Linked DNA regions of Homo sapiens: all the other regions are reported to be linked to region 3. The links are microRNA targets in miRTarBase. Many come from high-throughput screens and were not tested one by one. Region 3 holds a microRNA gene; each other region holds the end of a gene's coding sequence.
The links. The annotated mature microRNA hsa-miR-493-5p reads UUGUACAUGGUAGGCUUUCAUU and lies in region 3 at 2,313-2,334, opposite strand. An mRNA with a match to its seed (bases 2 to 7 or 8) in the 3' UTR can be bound and repressed. Matches are read on the target gene's strand: a 7mer-m8 pairs with bases 2 to 8, a 7mer-A1 pairs with bases 2 to 7 and ends in A, and an 8mer does both.

Region 1 (4,121 bases), not on the chromosome of region 3:
CCTAGGCTGGTCTCAAACTCCTGGGCTCAATCTGCTCACCTTGGGCTCCCAGGGTGGTGGGATTACAGGCATGAGCCACTGCACCCGGCCCACAGATTCTTATTGAGGCCTTTGTAAGTAGGCAGTTAATGCTCTATTGCCACCATTTCCCACTGTATTTTTTATAAATACCAATTGTTTGGTCAATCGACTTCTATTTATGAAACTGGAAAAGAATAATGATGATCCCAAATGTCTAACCTCATTGCTTGCCTTTATACAGAATCCTCACTATGGATGGGCTCATTGAGGACATTAAGCATCGGCGGTATTATGAGAAGCCATGCTGCCGGCGACAGAGGGAAAGCTATGAAAGGTGCCGGCGGATCTACAACATGGAAATGGCTCGCAAGATCAACTTCTTGATGCGAAAGAATCGGGCAGATCCGTGGCAGGGCTGCTGAGGCCTGTGGGTGGGACACCCAGTGCGAAACCCTCATCCAGTTTTCTCTCCATCTCTTTTCTTTGTACAATCCCATTTCCTATTACCATTCTCTGCAATAAACTCAAATCACATGTCTGCAAGAAGGCCTCCAAATATAGAAACAATCCCATTAGTCAGCAGTGGACCCTGTCTTTTATTAAGTGAAAGAAGAAACTGAGTCTGAAAGTACTCTAGGAGTAGAATGGTATTTGCCAGGGACTGGAGGAGGGGGCAGTGAGGAGTTATTGTTTAATGGGTACAGAGTTTCAGTTTGGGCAGATGAAAAAGTTCAGGAGACGATGGCCTGGCATGGTGGCTCACGCCTGTTATCCCAACACTTTGGGAGGCTGAGGCGGGCGGCTCACTTGAGGCCAGGAGTTTGAGACCAGCTTGGCCAATGTGGTGAAACCCCATCTCTACTAAAAATACAAAAAAAAATTGGCCGGGCGTGGTGGTGCACGCCTGTAATCCCAGATACTTGGGTGGCTGAGGCAGGAGAATTGCTTGAACTGGGGAGGAAGAGGTTGCAGTGAGCCAAGATCATGCCACTGCACTCCAACCTGGGCGACAGAGTGAGACTCCATCTCAAAACAAAAAAACGGAGATGGATGATGAATGGTGATGGCGGTTGCTCAAAAAGTTGAATGTACTTAATGCCACTGAACTATACCCTTAAATGGTCACGATGGTAAATTTTGTGTTTTACTACAATAAAAACTTTTTTGAAAGTCCAGGAGAAGTAAGGAATTTTTTTTTCTTTTTTTTAAGAGGAAGTCTCGCTCTTGTCCCCCAGACTGGAGTGCAATGGTGCAGTCTAGGCTCACTGCAACCTCCGCCTCCTGGGTTCAAGTGATTCTCCTGCCTCAGCCTCCCCAGAAGCTGGGACTACAGGCACCTGCCACCACGCCCAGCTAATTTTTGTATTTTTAGTAGAGACGGGGTTTCACCATGTTGTCCAGGCTGGTCTCGAACTCCTGACCTCAGGTGATCCGCCCACCTCGGCCTCCCAAAGTGCTGGGATTATGGGCATGAGCCACCATACCTGGCTGGTAAATTTTTTTTTTTTTTTTGTAGATGGAGTCTCGCTCTGTTGCCCAGGCTGGAGGGCAGTGGGACAATCTCAGCTCACTGCAAGCTCCGCCGCCTGGGTTCACGCCATTCTCCTGCCTCAGCCTCCCCAGCAGCTGGGACTACAGGCACACGCCGCCACGCCCGGCTAATTTTTGTGTTTTTAGTAGAGATGGGGTTTATCTGTGTTAGCCAGGATAGTCTCGATCTCCTGGTCTCGTGATCCCCCTGCCTTGGCCTCCCAAAGTGTTGGGATTACAGGCGTGAGCCACTGCGCCCGGCCGGAAAATTTTTTTAATGTAGTGAAATATGTCTACCATTTCCTACCCAATTTTTTTGAATCCCCAAGCAAAATCTTACTGAGAAAGCATCTATTACTTTTTATTAAACTGTTCCATGTTAGGTAGAGAGGAGAAGATGCATGTATGTATTTGGAATAAATTCTGCTTCTGAAAACACCTATCAACCAGACTAGAGTGCTGGAATCCTTGCCCAAAGAAATTCTTAAATCTACCCTAATGTTCATTCCTGTTTTCTGTCCTTTTAGTTTTCCTAACAGAGACTAAGAGAGGGATGGTGGAGAAGAAATAAAGCAATAGATGGGTGGGACTCAGTAGATAGTAGGAAAGAGGGAATGGAGCGTTGAGAGAGAATGGCACAGAGCCAGAAATACCCACAAAGCAGTGCTTCTCAAAGTGTCAGATCAGCAGCATCAATTTCACCAGAGGGATTGCTTGAAATGCAAATTATGGGACCCTACTTTAGATCTTCGATATTGGAAATTGAGGTTGGAGCCCAGCAATCTATTTTCACAAGCCTTGCAGGTGATTCTGATGCCTGCTAGAGTTACAACCACTGCCCTTTGCAGTACTCAAAGAGACTTCAAGTGGAGGTTCCCACCATCACTGCCTCTACCCAGCAGTCACTCCTGATTATTTTACTCTTGACAGCTGCGGAAACTGACCACTGTGGGAAGACCAGCTGCTCTGCTTTTTCTCCTGCTGTTTCCTCCACCATTGGTTGGCTGACAGCCGTGTTGCTATTATTAAGAGTCGGTGCCAGGCCGGGTGCCATGGCTCACGCCTGTAATTTCAGCACTTTGGGAGGCTGAGGCGGGCGGATCACGAGGTCAGGAGTTTGAGACCAGCCTAGCCAACATGGTGAAACCCTGTCTCTACTAAAAATACAAAAAAATTAGCTGGGCGTGGTGGTAGGCGCCTGTAATCTCAGCTACCTGGGAGGCTGAGGCAGGAGAATCACTTGAACGCAGGAGGTGGAGGTTGCAGTGAGCCAAGATCGCGCCTGGCGACAGAGCAAGACTCGGTCTCTTTTAAAAGTTGGTGCTGGCCAGGCACAGTGGCTCACGCCTGTAATCCCAGCACTTTGGGAAGCCGAGGTGGGCGGATCACAAGGTCAGGCGATCGAGACCATCCTGGCTAACATGGTGAAACCCCGTCTCTACTGAAAATACAAAAAAGTTAGCGGGGCATGGTGGCGGGCGCCTGTAGTCCCAGCTATTTGGGAGTCTGAGGCAGGAGAATGGCGTGAACCCGGGAGGCAGAGCTTGCAATGAGCCGAAATCGCGCCACTGCACTCCAGCTTGGGCAACGGAGCGTCCCCAAAAAAAAAAAAGGAAAAAGAAATAGATCTGCTCCTTTCCCTCATTTTGGAGAAAATCTGTATACAGGCTGCCTTCAACTTTGTTCCCTTTATACAACCTAGTCTTAACAAACAAGATATGACACTTCTGAGTCACCTTTAAATCTGAATCTGAGGCCGGGCGCGGTGGCTCACGCCTGTAGTCCCAGCACTTTGGAAGGCCGAGGAGGATGGATCACGAGGTCAGGAGAGCAAGACCATCCTGGCTAACACGATGAAACTCCGTCACTACCTTTTTTTTTGTTTTTTGTAGACGGAGTCTCGCTCTATTGCCCAGGCTGGAGTGCAGCGGCGTGATCTCGGCTCACTGCAAGCTCCGCCTTCCGGGTTCACGCCATACTCCTGCCTCAACCTCCCGAGTAGCCAGGACTACAGGCGCCCGCCACCGCGCGTGGCTAATTTTTTTTTTTAATTTTAGTAGAGACGGGGTTTCACCGTGTTAGCCAGTATGGTCTTGATCTCCTGACCTCGTGATCCACCCGCCTCGGCCTCCCAAAGTGCTGGGATTACAGGCGTGAGCCACCGCGCCCGGGAGGCTGAGGCAGGAGAATGGCGTGAACCCCGGAGGCAGACCTTGCAGTGAGCCGAGATGGCGCCACTGCACTCCAGCCTGGGTGACAGAGCGAGACTCCGTCTCAAAAATAAATAAATAAAATAAAATAAATCTGAATTTGGTCTTTAGTACATTTTAATGATATTGAGCCATAATATAGTGTCATCTACCACAGTGGTAAGGCATGTTTGTGATAACAGAATCAGGCCTGTTACTTGGCATTATTCTCCTGGGGCTAAAGTTGCTTCTGAGCTCCCTCCAAAATACTAAGAGGTGGCTGAGATTTGAAATTTTCTTTGTCTCTAAAAATTATCCCCCGCTTGTTTTAATCTTCAGTCCTATTGCCCATGCTCCCCTAGAGCAATGAACAATGATGGG
Region 2 (4,121 bases), not on the chromosome of region 3:
TTAGTAAAGACATCAAAGACTTGGGGATTTTATGAAACTTGTTTCAAAGTATGTTGACAGTTGTATTTGATGAGTTTGACTATTGAGTTGAGGGTTTAAGTCCTATCACTGCTTTTAAAAAATTATTAGGGAGAACAACCAAAGATGAGGAAGTATGCCTGTATTTTGGGGTGGGGTTCACCACTGCATTAACCTCTACTGACTGGAAGATGCAGTCAACAATGAGGTACTACTGAGTATGGAAGTTATAGAAGGAGTTTCGTGGAAATGAGTGAGACAGGTTTTTCTATGAAAGTAAAAGTGGGGGAGTATATTTAAAGATAATTTAAAATAAACTTGAGCAAAGTAAAAAGAAAATAATACACCAATAATTTGGAACATGAGCTAAATTTTTTTTTCTTTTTTAGAAAGACAACAAAGTTGCTGCATAGTCTACAAACAAGTCTCTGAAAATAGGTGAATTTCTAGCTCTTCATGGTCCTGAACATTGATTTCAGTCTTTGCAAAGAATGAAGAAGTGAATTCGCTGTACATTTGTCACCAGCACTGGGTTTTTGTTTTTTGTTTGTTTTTCCGCTTAATTTCAAAGATAAAATGCAGTTACTTTTGGGGGTGGAAGGCTCATCTTAAAACATGAGCATTAAATATATTTGGAATAGCAGAAGGTTAAGTAATTTCTTATGTATAGTTAAACTAAAGCAGTACTTCAGTGGGACTTAACAAGTATTTTTTCATCACTGAAAGGTTTTTTTTTTTTATCACTAAATTGTATTTGGCAATTGCAAGTTGCCTGCAGATAGGGCCGTGATACTGTGTTTTGAGCCACAGAAGGTTGTGTGTGTGTGTGTGTGTGTGTGTGTGTGTGTGTGTGTATGTGTGTGTCTTTTTCCTCCTTTCTTTTGGGGAATCCTGTAATATGAGGTAGCTTATTTCGTCAATTAATTAGGGTGCTGGATGGTAGAGAATTTTGTCAGTCAACTATGTACACACAGTAAATACTGTTTCTTAGGCAAAGGTAACTTTTTTATATAGTTGTAAAATTCCATTATATTCCATTGCCAAAGAAACATTAAGAACTTTGTATAGCTGTATAAAAAGCAACTAATTTTTTAAAGAATAAACATTTTAAAGTCAGCAAACATACTGTGTCCTTGCAGAAGTTGATGTGCTGAGCAGCAGCCTTATGGGTGGGTCTTTTTTTCTTAGTTTTCCAGGCTTAACATTTTTGATTTTGTTTTTTAATGTTTGGAACATAAATGAAGATTTGATACATTATTTCATTATCTAAAAAGGATTAATTATTCATGCTCATTGTAAGAACTTCATTTTGTAGCAAATGGCATATCACAGGATCTGTCCAGATAATCGATATTTTCAGTATACAAATGTAAATAATCACAGATGAGAATGTACTTAGCTGTATTTTCAAATAAGTAATCTTCCCCCCTTTTGTAGGACTTTAAAACTAGGCATCAATGAACCTGTTTTTCCTATTATGCCTGGAATTTAGTCATGATACCTTGACTCATTCCATCATATTTCAAGAGGATTCAGAGTGCTAGAAATTATTTTGGTAGCCTGTAACACACGGCAACACTGGTCCTTGGGCCTATGATGACCCACAGATGACTCAGTATAGAGTTCATTGCTAATTATAAATTACTAGTGAATCTTTTTGATATTTTAAGCTCTAGTGGGAAAAATCTGGCCACTTTTGTGTTTTTATGAAGGCCATGGAATAAAAGGATCCAAAGATTTAAATATTTTTATCTAATATTTTGATTGTTTTCTTAACTTTCTCCTTAAAACATTCAGTAGTGATAAAGATATAGAAACTGCACTGTAGGAGAATTGGAATATTTAAGGCTGGTTGACATTTTTTATTTTCATTTTATATCTTTTGTATAGCTCTACAAGGCAGTGTTTTGTAATTTGGTTTCATTATGAAGATCCAGTACTTGGCAGCCATAGTTTAGACAATATTGTTCAGTGCTGTTTGCTTGCATGTTAACAACAAAACCTTTTAGAGGACCCACAAATCATGATATTGAACACAGTTCCGAGGCATTCAGAGCATCAGAGCAAGTACCATGGCAATACATGTGTAGACTGTTGGAGATGTCCCGGGCCAATTTCAAGAAAGAAAACTGTAAATACTAGTTCTACTTGCTCTGAAATTATGAGTTTATGCGTTTTCCCAGCCCTCCGAATCACTGACTGGGGCGTTTTGTGCCCCAGCAATAACTGGCAGCATGGCATACCTGCAGTACCCCTTACAATATTAAAGCAAAGTTTTTATTCTAAAACAGAATAAAACTGTTCAATAAAAAATGCTCGTCAAAGTTCTTTCTCTTTAAATAGTAACATTCTGTTTCAGTAGGAACATAATGAAAGGAATCTTTTAAATGGAAGAGCGGAATTATAATGTTTGTATTCCCTGTAATAACTATAAATCAGTTACTTTATTTCTAAGATTGAGTTATTGTTGCAGATGTTTAGGGAAAGCTAAAAGCCCCTTCCTTCCCCTCCTGTGTGTAAATAAAATACTTCTGAGATCAGATCCGTGACATGAGGAGATTGAGCCACCCAGGCACAGGCCAGGCTGGAAACAGCAGCCAGAACACACTCCCTGTGGGCAGACGCATGAAGAAGATGCAGAATCTGTCTATTAAAACAGTTCGCTCCAAAAGCTGGGCTTCATGTGATGGTAGGGCAAGAGGTCGGGAACAGCAGTGCAGCACAGTGGCTCTCGGTGGGGTTACCTGACATCCTAGGAACACAGTCATCTGTTGCTTAATAATAGCGACATGTTCTTATTTTTAAATAGCAATGAGGTCTCACTTCGTTGCCCAGGCTGGTCTCTAACTCCTGGGCTCAAATGATCCTCCCATCTTGGCCTCCCAAAGTGCTAGATTACAGACATGAGCCACCAGGCCCGGCCATGACACATTCTGAGAAATGTGTTAAGCAATGTCATCATTGTGTGAACATCAGAGAGTGTACTACACAAATGAAGATGGTATGGCCTACTCCACACCTAAGCTATATGGTGTAGCCTGTTGCTCCTCGCTACAAACCTGTACAGCATGTTACTGTACTGAATACTGTAGGCAGTCATAACACAGTGGTATTTCTGTATTTAAAACATATCTAAACAGAAAAAGTATAGTAAAAATACGGTATCATAATCTTTGGGACCACCATTGTATACCCAGTCCATCGTTGACCAAAACATCATTAAGTGGTGCGTGAGTACTGAGGAATGTGAGGGGATGTGTTTTGGTTGTCACAATCACTGGGGATCACCACTGGTATTTAAAAGTAAGGGCCCGGATGGTAAATGTCCTGTGCTGTGCCACACAATCAGTTGTCCAACCCAAAGTGCAGTAGTGCTCCTCTACTCTGAGAAACACTGGCTAAAGTCCCTCCACATGGAAAGACAGTAAGTGGGAAATTATTTCCTGCCAACTTGAAAAAAAAAATTTACTACTTAGGAAATTGTCCGCTTGGGAATATTAATAATAAAGGGAACTTACTTCCTGTAGCACATCAGCATTGTGGAAACATTACCACATAGGAGTTAGGGCTTCATCCTGTTCTCTGTCAGTGCTTCACAAATCTCTGATCAGAATCTACCAAGGAGCATTTTTAAGTACAGATTCCCAGGCCCAGAGAGTGATTCTGAAGTTCCCTAGTACAGCAGAACCCAACCTTTTTGGCACCAGGGACTGGTTTCACCAAAGACAGTTTTTCCACAGATGAGCAGGGGGTATGGTTTTGGGGTGATTCAAGTATATTTATTGTGCACTTTATTTCTATTATTACATTGTAATATATAATGAAATAATTACACAATTCACCATCATGTAGAATCAATGGGAGGCCTGAGCTTGTTTTCCTGCAACTAGATGGTCCCATCTGGGGGTGATGGGAGACAGTGACAGATCATCGGGCATGATCAGTGAGTGCGCAACCGAGGTCCCTTGCATGCAGAGCTCACGATAGGGTTTCCAACCCTATGAGAATCTAATGCTGCTGCTGATGTGACAGGAGGTGGAGCTCGGATGGTAATGCTCACTCATCAGCCCGCCTCTCACCCGCTGTGCAGGCTGGTTCCTAAC
Region 3 (4,121 bases):
GAGATTTGGTGTGTCACATGGATTGGGGACGGTTCAAGTGGTACATTGGGGAGGGACAAAAGGCTCCAAGTGACACTGAGTAGTCAGGGCTGGAAGTGACACACGGGGGTGTCTCATGTGACACATGACTCGAGGAGGAGCCTAGTGTGACACGTCTGTGTGGGGCGGGGTCAGAGTGATGGGGGAGGAGGCGCTTCTGGCGATGCATGTGGAAGAGGCTCCACGTGACACTTGAGGCTGGGACACTTTTCAGCCTTGTGAACATCTAATGAAGCAAGCCCCTCCCAGGTGAATGATGGGTGTCCTGAGCTGAAGGTGGAGACCCAGTAGGCCTGCCTCATCTCGGTAGACCCAGAAGCATATCTACATGCCACCAATTCTAATTCTGAACGAGATAAAACATGCAGGTAAACAATTCTAAACATTTTTCAGAAGTTTCTCCAGCAAAAGTAACATTTCCTTAGCAAACATGGGACATCTTTAAAGACCACAGAGGCCCCCGAATACTGAGTGTGCTCTAGTCCTTAAAGGGAGGTGACCCTGAGGACCTCAGAGTCCACTGTTTTGTCCCTGGGAGTCCACATCCCTTCACCCCAGGGCATCACAGGTTCTTCCTAGACACCAGAGGGCCCCAGATTCTGGCTTTCCAACACCTAAAAACTTCCAAAATAGATATTTCACAACAAACACTTCACACACAAAAAAGAAAACATTAAAATCAACTGACAAAATAATTCCCATCTTCAATCACCATCATTTTAGAGCAAAACGTACATCGTTAACAATCCAATGACACCCACCAACGCGGGCAGCACAGAGGCTGACCAGCAGACTAGGTGGCAGAGTTCAGGTGCCAAAAGGCTCCTGGGGCGCAGGAATCTTGCCAAGGACTTGGGAGTGAGGACCTTGGGAGCAATCTAGGGACCCCTGAACTCCGGCAGCCATTACTGAGATGACCCATGGGGAATAGAGAGGGGACATGCAATCTCTCCCTCCAGGCTCCACACAGCAGGACCTCAGCTGAGCCCGCACTTCCTCCCCCTGCCCACCACCCCAGCTGATCCCGCCCTTCTGGAAACCAGCTCACCCTCCTCTGCACTCATGCCCACACCCACGCCCCCACCCCCAGCCCTGGCCCAGGCTCTCCTGCCATCCACCGGTGACACATGACTCGAGGAGGAGCCTAGTGTGACACGTCTGTGTGGGGCGGGGTCAGAGTGATGGGGGAGGAGGCGCTTCTGGCGATGCATGTGGAAGAGGCTCCACGTGACACTTGAGGCTGGGACACTTTTCAGCCTTGTGAACATCTAATGAAGCAAGCCCCTCCCAGGTGAATGATGGGTGTCCTGAGCTGAAGGTGGAGACCCAGTAGGCCTGCCTCATCTCGGTAGACCCAGAAGCATATCTACATGCCACCAATTCTAATTCTGAACGAGATAAAACATGCAGGTAAACAATTCTAAACATTTTTCAGAAGTTCCTCCAGCAAAAGTAACATTTCCTTAGCAAACATGGGACATCTTTAAAGACCACAGAGGCCCCCGAATACTGAGTGTGCTCTAGTCCCTAAAGGGAGGTGACCCTGAGGACCTCAGAGTCCACTGTTTTGTCCCTGGGAGTCCACATCCCTTCACCCCAGGGCATCACAGGTTCTTCCTAGACACCAGAGGGCCCCAGATTCTGGCTTTCCAACACCTAAAAACTTCCAAAATAGATATTTCACAACAAACACTTCACACACAAAAAAGAAAACATTAAAATCAACTGACAAAATAATTCCCATCTTCAATCACCATCATTTTAGAGCAAAACGTACATCGTTAACAATCCAATGACACCCACCAACGCGGGCAGCACAGAGGCTGACCAGCAGACTAGGTGGCAGAGTTCAGGTGCCAAAAGGCTCCTGGGGCGCAGGAATCTTGCCAAGGACTTGGGAGTGAGGACCTTGGGAGCAATCTAGGGACCCCTGAACTCCGGCAGCCATTACTGAGATGACCCATGGGGAATAGAGAGGGGACATGCAATCTCTCCCTCCAGGCTCCACACAGCAGGACCTCAGCTGAGCCCGCACTTCCTCCCCCTGCCCACCACCCCAGCTGATCCCGCCCTTCTGGAAACCAGCTCACCCTCCTCTGCACTCATGCCCACACCCACGCCCCCACCCCCAGCCCTGGCCCAGGCTCTCCTGCCATCCACCGGCTGGCGTGCGTCTCCCCGAGGCGTGCACTCACAAGGGCAACGTCCATCTACACGATGCCTGGCACAGGGCCTGGCACACAGTAGACCTTCACCGAATGTGCAAACGAATGAATGAAAGCCTACCATGTACAAAGCCCTGGAGGCCAGAATGAGCCCCGAAGCGAGGATGATGGAGGTGAGGCGGGTGATGGAGGCTGGAATGGCCAGAGATGAGATGCTGTGCCCAGGATGACAGAGGCCAGATGGAGGTGATGGGAGCCGTGATGATGGAGTCCATGGTAACAGACATGCATGAGATGGACCCCCCCCAAAGACGAGAGGGAGAGGAGGAAGCCAGGGCCCAAGAGCTGGGCCTGGAAACCTCTGAGGGTCAAGGTGGGACATGAAGCAGGAGCCTTTCCTGTCCAGACCAGCGTTCAGCTCGACGCCCCACCACCCACCCCACGCACTTGCATTCACAGAAAATCGACCCTGTGTGATCCTCAGAGAATAATCAGTGAGCCCGAGAGCCCTGCCAGTGAGGAGTGGGACGTGCCCTGGAACAGGGGGCAGCAGACATTTCTGCTTACAGACCCCATGAAGGGATTTTGGAAAGCCACGGATCTCCCCCTCCCATAGCCCATTTTTAAATGGGCCGTAAAAGTTAATAGGAAGTTTACAAAGTTGCAATGAGGTGGCCTCTGGCATATACTATAGCATATAGATGTGACAAATGCTAGGTATGGAGCACTTGTCAAAACCTCAGAGGTCTGGAATCAGCTCATTTTGATTTGTCCACTCTGAACCTCACTGGCAAACCAATCGGGCAAAACAGACTTTTTCAGAAAAAGCCTGATGTCATTTTGGGAACCCCTCAATTCAAATCAGTGTGTAAATATGCAGTGCAAAGGCAAACATTTCCCCCCTGGATTCGGAACCTCAGGTAGATGCATCACCTGGATGCCAAGGAGGGTGGGGCACCGTGGGTATGACGAGAACTCACCTGGAGGCTGGGTGGAGGGTGCAGCATCTGGCCAGAGGGCATGGCGGGCACAGGCGTCGTCCGGGCCCAAGGCCCTGTCCAGAGCGTGATGCAGTAGCCGAGGCCTGGGAGGCCCCATCTGGTCCTGAGGTTCCCCAGCCAGTGCCACAGAGCAGCAGAAGCCCCATGCAGTGGCTGGGGGAGCTGAGGGGCTAGGCACAGGACCCAGCCTGCCCCTTGCTCAACCCATTGTCTTGGGAGCTGCCTTGGAAGCTGGAGACTAGGGGGTGGGGGTGGGGGGGATGGCCAGAACCCCAGACAAGGGGGCAGGGGTTAAGGGGTGGGCAACGGGGGTGGGTTCCACTCCAGGACACAGGAGGGAGAGCCGGTGAGAGGACGGTGTCTGCAGCTCATGGGAGCACAGTACCCCCAACCTTGGCCTCAGCCCAGGTCTCACTCCAGCTGCTTTGCCAAGAAGAGGCAGGGGGGGAGGTGGAGAAGGATGGAGAAGAGGAGGGGTTCAAGGGCCAAGACTCTCACTCTTCTGTCCACTGAGGCAGACCTGGACACAAAGACGGACTGATGGGCAAAGCCACAGGGGATATAGGCATGGGTGACTCCGGGAAGCAGGTCTGGGGGCAGGATGTGGATGTGGCATCGGCACCCAGGGTGCTGTAGGCTCAGGGACAGATCCACTGTCGCCCACTCCCAGTCGCTCTCCACCATCTGTCTCCCACGCATGCACATACACACAAGCATAGAGCTGCATACGCATGCACTGGCAGGCACACGCACCCACACACGTGCACACCGGGCATGCTCACACACTCATAGGCTCACGAAGGCACACACAGGCTCATGGAGGCACACACACCCACACACATGCACACAGCTACCCGCTCCCAGGCCAGGGGCCCCTGTGCTCTGAGCCCTCCCATAACAGGAGCCCGGCACATAC
Region 4 (4,105 bases), not on the chromosome of region 3:
GGCTGACATGGTGAAACCCCGTCACTACTAAAAATACAAAAATTAGCCGGGCGTGGTGGTGGGCGCCTGTAATCCCAGCTACTCAGGAGGCTGAGGCAGGAGAATCACTTGAACCTGGGAGGCAGAGGTTGCAGTAAGCCAAGATCGGGCCACTGCACTCCAGCCTGGGTGACAAGAGTGAGACTCTTGTCGCAAAAACAAAACAAAACAAAAAAAAAAACAAAAAAAAAGGAGGGTCCTGATTCACTCACAGGCTCTTTGGCTCTACCAAAAAGCAGTATTTGCTATAAAAATAAGAGATCTAAGACCAGTCTCAATAAAACTCACCAAATTAGTGTTCAGTGCCAGAGAGAAAAGCAAGCTTTGAAATAAACATAAATAGCAACCAGATCAAAATGTGAAATAAAAAAATTCTTAAGCTTTCGATTTTGTCAAATGAAGCTTAAAATTCAAGTATCAGTTCTTACGGTTCTAGCCATTATAAATCTTACGTAAACATAAGAGCTAAAAACAGCCTGGTGTGTGGAGAATGATTATTTGGGCTCAAGTTTTGTCTAAGAAACATAAATTTAATTATAACTCTTAGTAACTATTTAATCCAAGCTGTTTTTCTTCAAATATTTTGTACTGTGTTTAGCCAGAAAACAAAATACAGATGAACTCTTTCTCTTTGTAAGGTGACTGTATTATAAACAAGGCTAAAGTAGCAAGGCTAAACTTTTAGTGCAGATAATAAAATTCGAATAGTACAAGAATACTCTTTAGGTAATATCTATAGAATAAGATCTCTAAATGTTTTTGTATCAGGTGGAAATGCCATCTAAAGTAATATTAACAACATAAATGTATATATGTGCATACATAAATATATAATACACACTTATATGTATGCGGAAGGGAGAGGTGTGTGTGTGTGTGTAAGGGAATGAAGAAAATGAATGAGAATGGGTACAAATCAAAGCAACCTTTTCTTGGGTTAATTATTTCAACTATAAAGATGTATCTCAACTTCTAAAGAAATTCCTGGTTTGTATTTAAATGCACTTTAAAAAGACCGTTAACACTCAAATTTAGTTGACAGGCTACAATGGGATTCAGAAAAGGACACAGTGAATATAGACTTAGGTGCAAGTTCATGCTGGTGATTTTTCTTTTTTAAAATGTAAGCCACTAATATTTTAAGACAAAAATTTAAACCAAAAATTGCATATTAATATTATACACAAACTGAAACATGTGACTTTTAGCACAGTGTATACATGCTTACATAAACTCAAACACATTTAAAACAATTTCCATTTAACATATGAAAGTTTTGAAATACATAAAAGCATTAATACTTTCTATAAAACTACAGTTAGAACATCAATTTGCTACAAGCATATAAAAACATCAAGTGCTTTCTTGGAGTTTCAAGTTTCCTCTCTAAAACACAATCTTGCTCACATATATAGTCCTTTTCCAATAATCAGTATGAACTTTTCTTTTTCTCAAGAGGTTTATTTTCCAGGTACATTATAAGCTCAAGAAAAAAGACCCAACAATTAGGCAATATAATTATGTCATAACAACTTAATTGCACATAATGCTTTAAAGTAGGTTTGGATGAAGTTCTCAAACACTTTGGTATATGATCTTCAGGGACTTTAATTAGAAACAACAGAAATTATAAGTCCCTTCAATCCCCATTTTGCTTTAAAAGGGACAAGTCTTTGGTTAAAGTTCTACATTTTGGGCATTTATTTTTAATTAAGATGGTCCCCAAACCAATAAATGGTACTGATCTATTACAAATTCACAAGACTTCATTTAACCTGCTTCTGATGCAGTGGGAGGTTACAGATACTCATTTACTATAATATGTCATTGGATAGTTTCAATCTTTCATTTATAAGCAGAGAAATCAATAGGTTTATTACTTCTCTGTCAGTTTTCTGTTATAACCTAAACTGTACAGTAATTTGCAGTAACTACAGATACTGTTCCACAGTATATATAATTATGACTGATAAGATGTAGAGCATTAAATTTAGAGTTAGCTTATTCTGATAAGTCAATATTAGACTGTTCATTAACTCTGCATTAACTATAGAAAGGTTGTTAGTTAATGCTTATTTAAAAACCCCAAACCATTCCATTTACAAGAGAAATTGTTGCAAATGTATAAAACAGCAGATATACAAGGAGAACACCAAACATACTTTATTAGCACAAAAAAAGCAGCCATAACAAGGCACAGCAAGCAGAAACATACATTAGCAGTCAAAAGGTTAGTGTTGCATACAAATATAGCTTTCCTTTTTTGTAGCCTTGGCAATAGCCATAGGGATGTAAAATAACATTCTGTAGCAGCAGGTAAGGAAACTATGGAGCACTCACCAGTGGTACAGAGCACATTAACGAAAAGACATGAGAGTGGATTCGGCTACTTTAGTGCAAAATGTCTAGGACAGAACTGTAAATTCAGTTCAGTTACTAAGAAGCAAACACTAGAACTTGATATAACTTCCAAAAGCGCTCACTCAAGTAGTAGTACATATTATTCTAAGTGACAAAAAGGTGCTAAGTTATTTACAGATATAATGGTTGTACAGTACCTTTTAAATCTGCAATTTAGGTTTCAGATTTTCCATTAAGAATGAACTGCACTGAAATTCTATAAATTATACTTAAGCAATTCAGTTATGAGAGTTTACAAAAAAGAGATAAATTCTGCCATCCAAATTATTAATTATAGTTCAACAATAATCTCAACATCAGCAACCATTGTAGTTACTATTATCTGACTTGTTTGGGCGTCTTCTAGTCTCACGTACTTCACGGTTCACAAAATCATCCTGGGCATAGGAACAGATCCAACTTTTATGAAACAACAATTAGACTGCACATCAACTTAAAAAAAAATCACACACAAGACTACATTGCAGCAGCTATTCCAAACGCCTGTTTTAAGTTAAAGCACTCATTTAAAAAATTAATACCTAGGCCTTTCAATAAAATTCTACTACTAGCTTTGTAAGTCTGAAATTTTAAGAATGCCTATTTAGAAAATCTGGTTTACTTAACAGTACCTTTTGCAGAAGAGAAAAGGCGTCTGATTATAAACTACATCAACACGTAAGTGAACTGCACTATGCCCTTGTGGCCAGAAAATTGCATTTTTTTCTAAAAGGAAGGCAGTCTTTTATTCTTTTTGGACTTCCAAAGCTTGATTTATAGTAACTACAAACATCACGACTTTTGGAAGGTTATAGAAAAACTCTTAGAAAAAATAATTTCAAACATTAGTCACACTGTTGAAATACTCATCCAATATTAATAATTTGTTCTTCAGTAAGAAATAGAATTCTTCATAACAAATGCCCCAGAGTTGCCTCACTCAAATACCACAGCCATTAAAAACCAAACTGTTAGCGAAATAGGCAAAATGTTTTTGTAGTCTTACTGAACACCTGTAGCTCTATCCGCTATTGTTCCAATAGGCACCATGTTTATCTGAATAAGTAACAGCAGGTAGCATCTGACAGATACTAACACTAAGCTTACATACTGTATGAAAAAGCCTAACACTGCTACGTGTGCTTGCTATAGGTGTACTGTCTGATGCACATGAAAGCGGACCTAGTTAACAACCTTTGGGGACCGGAGAGTTTACTTTGCCTTGACTGGTTCTCGTTCCAACCAGCGAACTCTAACTTTTTGTTTATAATGATACTCTTTTAAAAAATCCTGTAACATTGAGGGTAGAGGGAGCCCATCAATTCCATCATACGTAGTGCACCTGCAGATTACCGCGCGACAGATATACTGCAGGCTAAAAGGGAAAGTCCTATTTAGTGATATAGTAAGCAATGGTTCAAAAAACATGCACGAACTGGGATCTTTATAATGTTCTAAAAGTCCCGTTACAGTGGAGGAGTGAAATACACACGGGTCATGGGCGTCGAAACTAAAGTTGTGATTCCACTGCTCAATTCGGGCATGCAGGGATCTGTTGTAGCGGCGGAAGCTCACAGAGAAGAGGTAGTCCTCTTGCGCAGAGTCCCTGAGCAAAAACGTGCCTTCAGGTTTCCCTTCGAGAAGGGCTTCTGCTTCATAACGGTCC
Region 5 (4,121 bases), not on the chromosome of region 3:
AGTTTAGATGTTTAGGCATGATATTTATTTCTTCAGAGCATTAAAATACATATTTTTTAAATCTATGCATTGAACAAACACCACTGTAAATAAAGGTTTTATAAGTCAGTGCTTCAGAATTATTTTCCTTCATATGTAAAATATAGGTGATAGGCCGGGCGCAATGGCTCATGCCTGTAATCCCAGCACTTTGGGAGGCCAAGGCAGGTAGATAACCAGGTCAGGAGTTTGAGACCAACGTGGCCAGTATGGTGAAACCCCCGTCTCTACTAAAAATACAAAAATTAGCTGGGCATGCTGGCGTGCACCTGTCGTCCCAGCTACTTGGGAGTCTGAGGCAGAATAATTGCTTGAACCTGGGAGGCGGAGGTAGCAGTGAGCCAAGATGGTGCCACTGCACTCCAGCCTGGGCAACAGAGCAAGACTCCATCTCAAAAAAAAAAAAAAAAAAAAAAACTAAAAATTAAAAAATGTAGTTAAATGTAGTTGATAGGCTGTATATATTTACCCTATACAATGTAAACACTGATGTAATTAACAGATTTTTGTTTTTAACATTTATTCTTCAGGTTAGTCATATTGATGTGATCACAGCAGAGATGGCCAAAGACTTTGTAGAAGATGATACCACACATGGTTAATTGGAAAATACTACCTACTGGTTTGGGAGATGTATATAGTAATATGATTCTCATACCCAGGAACTGTAAATTTAAACCTAAATATTTGGCCAATAGTTTTCAGACTTAAAGCATCATAGTCCTTTTATATTTGTCTTTGTATTTTATAAGATACTCTGTAATGTCATGTTTGTACTGATAGTTTAAGAATTTAATTTCCTGTACAACTTTTTGTAAAATGTTCTGCTCCTATTTTAAATGTTTTGAAACATGCTAAATATTCTTTCCTAATTATTTTATCACTTATACTACCTTTTTTATAGCTTCAATTAAATAATCGGTTTTATGACTAATATAGTGTTTTATGTGGCTTTTCATTTGTCATAGTCTCTTCCAGTGAGAACACTAATCAGATTGGATGTAAGGCCTCATTTTAACTTAATCACCTCTTTAAAAGACCTGTCTCCAAATACAGTTAAATTTGAGGTATTGAGGGTTAGGACTTCAACATGTGAGTTTGGGAAGGGAAGCACAAAATCAGCCCCTACCATGGTATATTTATCATTGATACATTACTATCAACTAAGCTCAAGATTTTATTCAGATTTGACTAGTTTTTCCACTAAGGCCCTTTTTCTTTTCTAGGATCCCACAGAGGATACATTACATTTACTTACATCTCCTCTAGTCTGTGACAATTTCTCTGTCATTGTTTATCATATCTTGACAATTTTGAATAATATTCACATATTTTGTAGAATGTCCCTCAAATTAGGTTTGTCTAATATTTTTCTCATGGTTAGATTGGAGCTAATACCACAGAAGCGAAGTATTCTCATTACCTCATATAATAGTACATATTATTAACATGTTTTATCACTGATGTTTACCTTGATCACCTACCCAACATTGTACTTGCCAGGTTTCTTTGTTGTGAAGTTACATTTTTTTCCCTTTCCATACTACTCTTTTCTTTGAAAGTAGGTCTTTAAGCACTGGGGGTCTCCTGTGACCCTGGAAAACTACCTCAATAGTCCTCGTAGCTTTTTGTAGATTCTTTGAGATTTTCTACATAGACAGTCATGTCATTTGCAAGAAAGAGGCAGTTTTATTTCTTCCTTTTCAAATATTTACCTTTAATTTCTTTTTCTTGATTTCCCCTGGCCTGAGTTTATACTGGTTATCTGCAGGAGAATTTGTTAGGAGCTACTCTTCCATCATTGGAAACCAGAAATACCTAAAGAGATACTTTTAAAATAAAGAAATAGTAATGGGACTTTAAATTGAATTTAAAAATGTGAGTTTACTTTGGGTTTTCATTTTGACTGGCTGAATCTTTAAATGTTCGGTGTATTATTTATACTTTGTAGCTTTGCTATAACATAACTGATCTATAATAGAGAATTTGGTATATGTTCTATCTATGACTACATTCAAAGGGTTACGTAACTATAATATCTTTCTAATATTTCTACCATTTTTCTTACACATTTACCCAAGAATTTTTCTCAAACAACTACCTAAGAATATTCATCATGAATGCTTGGTGTATAGTTTACGATTTGTAGAGTTGCTCTGATATGACCAACCCCTTATAATACAGAATTTGGTGTAAGGTAAGTTCCAGGATTCAATTCAAGGGATGTTACAAACATAACATCATTCTAGAACTTCTTAATATTGTTCTTAAGCATTTCCCCAAGGATATTAGTATAATGAAATGCCAGTAAATTTATAACAATAAAGCATCTAAATAATGAAACAAAATTTTTGTAAAAGCCTATATTCTTTGCGATATCTTAGTCATGAATTAATTCTAATGAGACTGAATAGAAAAATGTGACAATCCTGAGCATGCTTAACCCAGAAACTTAGAGGAAGGACAGACATTTACCCAAGGAGTTAGCCAGTGATTCATAAGAAAATCTATGCTTCTCTTTGGCTGGATAGTCCTTTCCTCAGAGTAGTACTGATTCTTCCACTTTGAGATTTTGTTAATACTGTTACAAATACATTACATTCACCATAGTGGAATTGAAGAACATATATTTTAAGAGATGGTGGGGGGGGTCTCATCCCATCACCCACGCTGGAGTGCGGTGGCAGGATCACAGCTCACTGCAACCTTGAACTCCTGGGCTCAGGTGATCTTCTGCTTTGGCCTGCCAATATTAATATTTTGGGGCATTTCCTTCAAATCTTCATAAAAAGTTTTGTGGTTTATGTTTATTCTAGGTGTATAATTTTATATCTTAGATTTTTAATTTAGTAATAATATAAAATATTCCTGTTTTAATGCTTTGGAAACAAGATTTTAATAGTCATATACTATTCTGTCAAGTAGAAGTAGCATAATTTACTTAAATATCCCACTGGAGGCTTAGATCGTTTTCTTTTGGCTAAAGTACCAAAAATGAATTAAAAAACAGATCAACATTTTTATACATAAAACTCCCAACATTTAGGATTATTTTCCCAGCGTAGATTCCTAGAAGTCAGAGTGTGAATATTTGTAAGGATTTTTGTATACTCTTTATGCTCTTTTTGAAAAAAATGTAAAATATGAAATGGTTAGTATGTAGGTTAAGGATTTGTCTACTCAAAATTAGTGAAATAGTAATTTTAGAAAATGATGTAATTTATAGAAATAATTTTACTGTGAATAATATAATCAGTAGAAAAGGGAGAAATAGAAAGGGAGGATTTCTTTTTTAAGAGTAAGCAATAGCCGGTCGGGCACGGTGGTTCACGCCTGTAATCCCAGCACTTTGGGAGGCCAAGGTGGGTGGATCACAAGGTCAGGAGATCGAGACCATCCTGGCTAACCTGGTGAAATCCCGTCTCCACTAAAAATACAAAAGATTCTCCGGGCGTGGTGGTGGGCGTCTGTAGTCCCAGCTACTGTGGAGGCTGAGGCAGGAGAATGGCGGTAGCCCGGGAGGCAGAGCTTGCAGTGAGCCTAGATCGTGCCACTGCCCTCCAGCCTGGGCGACAGAGCGAGACTCCATCTCAAAAAAAAAAAAAAAAGCAATAGCAAACGGGTCTTTGGAAATATTTAGTTAATTCTTAAAAGGTGTTTCTCTTTTAACAACTATCTAGGCCAGGCGCGGTGGCTCGGTGCCTGTAATCACAGCACTTTGGGAAGCTGAGGCAGGCGGATCACTTAAGGTCAAGAGTTCAAGACCAGCCTGGCCAACATGGTGAAACCCTGTTTCTACTAAAAATTAGCCGGGTGAGGTGATGCGGGCCTATAGTCCCAGCTGCTTGGGAGGCTGAGGCAGGAGAATCATTTGAATCTGGGCGGTGGAGGTTGCAGTGAGCTGAGATCGCACCACTGCACTCCAGCCTGGGAGACACAGCGAGACTCCGTCAAAAAAAAAAAAAAACAAAAAAAAAACCAAAACTCTCTTAATAAAAGGACTAGTACTTTGATTCAGCTTCCCACAAAGGGAGAATACCAGTGTTTAAGTAAAGTGAACAGTATTCAGATTTCACTATCAC

Region 1: the mRNA of MRPS21 is a reported target of hsa-miR-493-5p. Seed matches in the 3' UTR shown: 7mer-A1 at 506-512.
Region 2: the mRNA of LSM14A is a reported target of hsa-miR-493-5p. Seed matches in the 3' UTR shown: 7mer-m8 at 981-987.
Region 4: the mRNA of SOCS5 is a reported target of hsa-miR-493-5p. Seed matches in the 3' UTR shown: 7mer-A1 at 2,587-2,593.
Region 5: miRTarBase lists SMC3 as a target of hsa-miR-493-5p. Seed matches in the 3' UTR shown: 7mer-A1 at 841-847.

What each region holds. Positions count from the first base shown.
Region 1 is chr1:150,307,786-150,311,906 of GRCh38, forward strand. MRPS21 (mitochondrial ribosomal protein S21) reads left to right here. Exons shown (of 3, transcript NM_031901.6): 3 at 263-1,194. The coding sequence ends at 443. Among named protein-coding and RNA genes, the nearest start is that of PRPF3, 12 kb to the right of the region's middle.
Region 2 is chr19:34,226,958-34,231,078 of GRCh38, forward strand. It overlaps LSM14A (LSM14A mRNA processing body assembly factor), which reads left to right. Exons shown (of 10, transcript NM_015578.4): 10 at 408-2,331. The coding sequence ends at 431. Among named protein-coding and RNA genes, the nearest start is that of GARRE1, 26 kb to the right of the region's middle.
Region 3 is chr14:100,867,288-100,871,408 of GRCh38, reverse strand. It overlaps MIR493 (microRNA 493), which reads right to left and starts at 2,349; the gene lies at 2,261-2,349. RefSeq lists an enhancer at 3,701-3,870.
Region 4 is chr2:46,759,688-46,763,792 of GRCh38, reverse strand. It overlaps SOCS5 (suppressor of cytokine signaling 5), which reads right to left. Exons shown (of 2, transcript NM_144949.3): 2 at 664-4,105. The coding sequence ends at 3,652. Among named protein-coding and RNA genes, the nearest start is that of LINC01118, 55 kb to the left of the region's middle.
Region 5 is chr10:110,603,662-110,607,782 of GRCh38, forward strand. SMC3 (structural maintenance of chromosomes 3) reads left to right here. Exons shown (of 29, transcript NM_005445.4): 29 at 570-2,387. The coding sequence ends at 641. Among named protein-coding and RNA genes, the nearest start is that of SMC3, 38 kb to the left of the region's middle.